Homo sapiens: one gene and its partner. The protein of the gene in region 1 purifies or fractionates together with the protein of each later gene. This does not show direct contact. Each region holds a gene or a part of one and is shown on either strand. Other genes may lie near its edges.

The links. Proteins that work in one complex are often made in the same cells at the same time.
Region 2: the proteins of KIF18A (region 1) and GKAP1 purify together in Homo sapiens (affinity purification with mass spectrometry; one large-scale study listed by BioGRID and IntAct). This does not show direct contact.

The regions. Positions count from the first base shown.
Region 1 is NC_000011.10:28,024,443-28,028,256, reverse strand, and holds part of KIF18A (kinesin-like protein KIF18A), read left to right. Parts: intron 1-3,814.
Region 2 is NC_000009.12:83,738,710-83,741,847, forward strand, and holds the end of GKAP1 (G kinase-anchoring protein 1), read right to left. Parts: intron 1,036-3,138; coding exon 988-1,035; 3' UTR 716-987; downstream 1-715. UniProt on the Homo sapiens protein: Regulates insulin-dependent IRS1 tyrosine phosphorylation in adipocytes by modulating the availability of IRS1 to IR tyrosine kinase. Its association with IRS1 is required for insulin-induced translocation of SLC2A4 to the cell membrane.

The sequences.
Region 1 (3,814 bases):
TGGAATAAGTGCAGTGTGGTGCTGAAAAGAATGTATATTCTGTTGATTGTGGGTGGAGAGTTCTGTAGACGTCTATTAAGTCCGCTTGGTGAGAGTTTTTATCATAAAGGGATGTTGAATTTTATCAAATACTTTTTCAGCATCTATTGAAATGATCATATGGTTTTTGTTCTTCATTCTATTGATACAATGTATCACATTGGTTAATTTGCATATGTTGAACCATCTTGCATCCCTGGGATAAATCCCACTTGGCCATGATGAATGATCTTTCAGGTTTGTTATTGGATTCAGTTTGCTAGTATTTTGTTAAGGATTTGTGCATGTGTTCATCAGGGATATTGGCCTGGAGTTTTCTTGTTTTGATGTGTCCTTGTCTGGTTTTGGTATCAGAGTAATACTGGCCTCATATAATGATTTTGGAAGTATTCCTTCCGCCTCTGTTTTTCAGAATAGTTTGAGTAAGATTGGTATTGGTTCTTTTTTAAATGTTTGGTAAAAATCAGCAGTGAAGCCATCAAATTCCAAGCTTTTCTTTGCTGGGAGACTTTATTATGACTTTGATTTTGTTACTTATTATTCATTTGTTCAGGTTTTGGAATTTTTTCTGAAAGATAGACTGGTAGGAAAATATCCAAACTGATGTGCAGTATGATAAAAATATGGGAAGAAGTGAAAGAGACATGGGACACAATTTTTAAAAGTCTAGAAAATATGTATTTTGTGTCTCAGAAGGGAGTGAGAGAAAGAATAGGGAAAAGTAATATTTGAGATGATGGCTAATACTTATTCAAAACTAACAAAAGACATTAAACCATGGATTTGAGTAGCACTGCAAACCAAAAGCCGGGTTAATATAAAGAGAAACATACCTAGGTATATAGTAGTAAAACAACTAAAAACTAAAGATAAGGAAAAATCTTAAATATATTGAGTTATATGACTAGAAGTTCATGATGCATTCTTTATATCCTATAAATTGAATGCAATGACAAATATACTCAATAAATATAAAATGGATCTGACTTCCTCTACCTCTTTTTCTTTGCTATGTGATTATGGGGAGAAAAGTTTATAGAAGACCTTAAAATGACTCTTTTTAAATGTATTTTCCACCAGGAGCCTGTTATCATTTAAGTAACAGGAAGCGAATTTACAAGTAGCCTACTTATTTGTGCTACATAGAGTATCTTCTCATAAGTGAATTTAATATCTGTCCTTGTCCCTCCTAAACAAAGTATAACAGAGACTTGGAATGTGTAAATTTAAAATTTATGGATTTTTCCTAAATGTCTCATCTATGACATTTAAAATTTTATATTTGCTAAGGTACAAATTTGATTTGTACAATTATTCTGGTTTATATACAGAAGTCTGTCACTTTATGAGTGAGCCTAGCTAACCACAATCATCTGTTTCGTCTACTTTTATCACTAATTTGCATAGTGTCAGTTTTGTCATTTGTTCCATTAATTAATTTTAGTGAGTTTTCTTGTCCTTCACTGGTAGTATGTTGTGTTTACTAAGATGTCACAAATGTTTATAGATAAGAATAATTTTTAAATATGAACTTAGCTATTATAAAATCAAATAGTTTTTCAGGAAATGTCCAGGTATGTGAATTGTGTATTTGGAGTGATTTTAGATAAGTTAAAGGGCTTCCACATGAACAACTAATATTGTGAAATAATATTAAAGGACATGTAAAGAAAGTAACTTGATTTCTTATAGCCTATTAATTGTTCTATTACATTCCCTCTGGTACCAGTAATTAGATCCTGCCATTAACTAAGGTTAAAAGAGATTAATGCTAGAAATGTACATGATTACTTTTTTTAATCTTCTTTTTCCCCAATTAAAGTTACATGCGCTTCAGAGTAATAAACTGTGGTATTTTCCATTTAGCAGCTTTATATACATATTTAGTTGTGTATATATTCTAATATAGTTTTTAAAATAAAGAAGGGGAAGCTCTCTATATATGTATTTCATTTATTTTGCATAAAATGGCATTAGAGTTTGAAAGCACTGGATATTCCAAAACCTACCCAACAGATTTGTTTAAATAATTGAGTATATTAGATTTTTAATCTTAACAATTTATTTAATATTTCTCTAGCACACTATTTTACTAAATTGATTAGCCTATCAAATATTTAAATATAATGCATACATAATGTTAGCTTTTACTTCTCAATTATATTAATCAGAGTTTTGGATTGTTTGTTTTGTATTTGTTTGGTTGATTGGTTTTTTGTTTGTCCACAATCTTCTGAGCACCCCAAAGCAGTTTCATATTTGCCATACACTTTTATTTTGTTTTGAAAGATGTCTAATTATTTCAACTAGAAATTATTTCAGATAAAATAGTAGAAGAGGTATTATGTTGAGTAGAAACATTCTACCTATATAAGGGAGCAAAAGGTTAATTCTTAACTTTATTTATAGTTATGGGAATATGTTTTGTGCACAACTGGAAGTGTCTTTGGATTTTTCAGTATAGCCTTTAACATAATTTGAACTTGCGCTCATCAGTTTTAAGTCTTTGTAGTTTATGACCTACAACATAAATGTTAAACATTTCATCAGTGGACTATTTAACTAAATCGTAAACATGTTTGGGTATATTTTACTTTTATATAAATACGCAATTTATTAGGGTTGGATTTGATTTCTAGAAATATGAGTTCTAATCAAATGGCTTTATTCAAAAGCCTAATTTTCAAGAAAGAACATGCTATGAGTAAAAAGTAGGGTCCTGGAACTAGCCATAATGCATAATCGTACTATGAAATAATAAAGACAACTTTGGGATAAATTTAAGAAAAAACAATGTTTTATCAAAAGTAACTAATAATATTGATCTTTATATTTGAAAAAATAAAATCACCAAATGATCAAAAAAGAATTTCTGCCTTGGACAGCTGATATATACAAAAGTGTGTTTAATATGCAAAACAGAATCATAGTAATTTATCACCATTTAAGAAGTGGGGACTACTGTAGTTGATATAATATTTGTGCATACAAATTTGTGATTTTATCTTCTTAAACTGTGTCATTTTCATTACTTCCACTGAGTAGTCACCCCTTATTCAAGTTTTGCTTTCTGTGGTTTCAGTTACCCATGGTCAACCGCAGTTCAAAAACAGGCGATTGTAGAACAATAAGATATTTTAATAGAGAGCGAGACCACATTCACATAACCTTATAATAATTATAATTATAATTGCTCTATTTTATTATTATTGTTAATCTCTTACTGTGCCTAATTTATAATTTAAACTTTATCATAGATATGTGTAGGAGAATACATAGTATATATCCGGTTTGATACTATCCTCGGTTGCAGGCATCCACTGGCGATCTTAGAAGATATCCCCCCCGTCGATAAGGGGGATTACTATATAGTATCTTTATTAGCCAGAATTTCCCTAAGCTTAGGTTGTTTGAATCAGCGTGGAAGGATGTTCTTTTTCCACCCAACCCCCCCCAATCCTACCTGTTAAAAATTGATCCTCTTTAGGACTAGGAAGGATTGCTGTTTTTCAGGACCCAGATCAAATTCATTGCATCCACAAAATTTCCATTATTCTTTCTTACTCTACACTCAAGAATCTATAGCTCCTTGTATTATGGAAACCTTGGCACTATATTTTTACTTTACCTTATATTATTTCATGTATTTATCTTATTTTTTTCTCATCTCCACTGTATGTCTATTCTATAAGTTTTTAGGACAGGGATTTTTGTGCCTTGTTTACTTGTATATCATGTAACACAAGGCCATAATAGGTGTTTACTAATATGGCAA
Region 2 (3,138 bases), on another chromosome or scaffold:
TCCTACCGCTGCCTCCTAAAGTGCTGGGATTACAGGCATGAGCCACCATTCCCAGCCCACAGACTGTTTTTCATTCTGCCTGCCTGGACCGCCTGTCAATAAATTTACAGAAAAAATATCTACCCTTTAAAAGCTATTTCATGCAAGTTTTCTCCATCTCCAAACAATGTGATTTCACACTCTACTATCTATGGTAATTATTTTTTGCTCTTGTTTTACCCACCCCCACCTTTTTTTTTTTTTTTTTTTTTTTGAGACAGAGTCTCTCTGTGTCACCCAGCTCACTACAACCTCTGACTCCGAGGTTCAAGCGATTCTCCTGCCTCAGCCTCCCGAGTAGCTGGGATTACAGGCGCACACCACCATGCCTAGCTAATTTTTATATTTTTAGTAGAGACGGGGTTTCACCATGTTGGCCAGGCTGCTCTCAAACTCCTGGCCTCAAGTGATCTGCCCACCTTGGCCTCCCAAAGTGCTGGGGTTACAGGTGTTAGCCACCACACCCGGCCTAACCACTCCCACCTTCTACTTCCCCCAAGCATAAGCTATTTGAGGGTATCAGCCATATTTCATCTTGCATGTCCTGCAGGGTTTAGTGTGCAGAAAGTGCTGAGAAAATTTTCACTGAACTGAAAGGACCCAACTGATTGGCTGTGCTGTAAGCAAAAATACTTTCATTTCATGTTTCTGAAACTTAACAAATCAAACATATTAGTGGAAGAGTAAATTAATTTTATTGACTGATGAAAAACTAAAGTGATAAGAAGTATGGATAGTAGACAACCACTGAATTCTGCTGGAATTCTCTATTTCTTCTTTTTCACTTTAAGCCAAAAGAAATAAAATTATAGACCATTAGGGAGCTAGTTGCTTTTAGTTCCTTCAAGAAAAACTGCATAGTTTAGCAGTTGCACAGCATTAAATATATACAACTTTGCAAAATCCTGGAAGTTTTAAACTTTGTGTTGACTTCAAAGGCTAATGTAATCACCTACACTGGTCGGATTCAGAGTTTCTTTTCCCTTTTCTGCCACCCTGTAAAAAAAAAAAAAAATAGGGAAAATTATTTACAACATACCATTTTGGGACCACTTCATTTAAAAAATATAGACCAAAGGCATCTTGGGGTATGAGAAGGAAGCAATTTCTTTTTTGATTTTGTTGTAAATTTGAGTCTACATACTGTTACATTATTTTAATATGGTTATTTTTTATAAATGGTTAAGGTTGGTTTTAGAAAAGTTACTTCTATTTGAATAAGAGTCTTGCCTTAGTAAGCTCACCGATATCTTATTTTTTTAGAACTCATTTTGACTGTTCTAGAATTAAAAATAAAGTTTTTGATCAATACTAAAATAAACAGTACACTTAAATTTGTTCCATATGATCAGCAAATTTAGTAATTCAGTTCATTACCTTTTGGGTAATTCAATTTATAATTCAAGTTCTGTTGCGTTTTGCTCACATTAGCATTAGAAATTTGATTTTGTTCATTAGTGGATTGAAAACTAGGTTATGCTTTTCATATTGCTTAGTTGCATATATAAATTTGTATTTAATTTGCTCCATATGAAACATCATTTGTGGTATTTGACTTGAGCCAAAGCAAAGGAAAGGCAGCATAAAGGACAAGAAGGGTTTTACATAAATATTTTAACATAACATAACATAACATAACATTTTCTGTTTTATTCTGATTTAAAAAACATTCATTATAGAAATATGGAAAGTACAAACATGCAAAGAATAAAATTAAAATCATCAATAGCTACTCTACCCCCTTCAATTTAACCATAAATAATGGTTTAATGTATTTACTTTATAATAGTTGTATGTATAGTTTTTCCCATTTTTATAAAACTATGGCAATGGTGTCCAAACTTAGTTGATCATCAGAATTACCTAAGCAGTAATATTTTTAGAATTCTGACATCTAGGCTTTGTCCCACACCTATTTAATTGGCTAACAATCTTTAATTCAAAGTTTCCAAGTGATTCCAATGATCAGCCAAGTTTGGGAACTACCTTTTCTGTGGAAGTGCATCTCTTAAAGAGAGGTGGTTGTATCAGGGGCATATGGAGCTCAGACTCATTTGATAATGATGGCAGTTTCTCTTTGTTTCTTTCATTCTTTTTCTGACTATAATAACCATTTCAACATCAACATTATAAAACAAAATGAAACAATACTCGCACATAAGAATGCTGTCATTCACTCCTGACCATATAAAAATTTTGCCAATATTTATTCAGAGAAAAACAGTATGAATAGGTTTTTTGGAACAGGAGATGTGTAATGACATGTATTAAAAACAAGATTTATTTCCAGTTAGCAGAAAAATAAAAATAAACTTAGCAAAAATATTTTTTGAAATAGATACCCACCCACTATACATAAAACTCCTACCATGCTTCTCGATGAGATTTCTTAAAAATCCAAAACAACAAACACACAAGAATCTTTTCAAGGTATCCCAGGTAAAGGGAATTCTCTTTCTAGGACTGATTCAATTTTAAAGCCACGGCTAATCAACTGCTATGTTCTCCACACCATGAGTGGCTTTTGAGATTTTTTGGCTATGATTCCAGTTAATGTATTTTATATTATGATTTAGAAACACATATATATACACACACATAAATATATCTCTCACACACACACACACACACACACACACACACAAAAGCACTGGTATTTTTAATTGCTTCATCCTGGAACAAACTGCTCAATGCTAGCTTGTAAATGCAGAAGAAATGATAGAGTTAGAAAATCACTATTTTGCAATCACAAAAAAAGGCACAAATATCAATGGATGCTAAAGCCACTAGATGAAAAGGGTATTCATACAATCTTAAAGTATCACCTCACATATTAATTATAAAAGGGAAAATATATATTTACAATGGAGATATCTAGGAGATATCACTGTATCCAAGTGATCAACCTTATAAACAGGACAATTGTCCTTTTGTGCCTTTCCCCAATATGATTCAATGGCATGTATGCTGTATCATCTATGTAGTACCAAGAATTTTCCTGAATTATGCTAGTTATTGCTGTATATACCAATGTCTAGAATAACATCTTCTACATTGTAAATTATATGACCGATAATAAAATTATCAATATATTTAGTG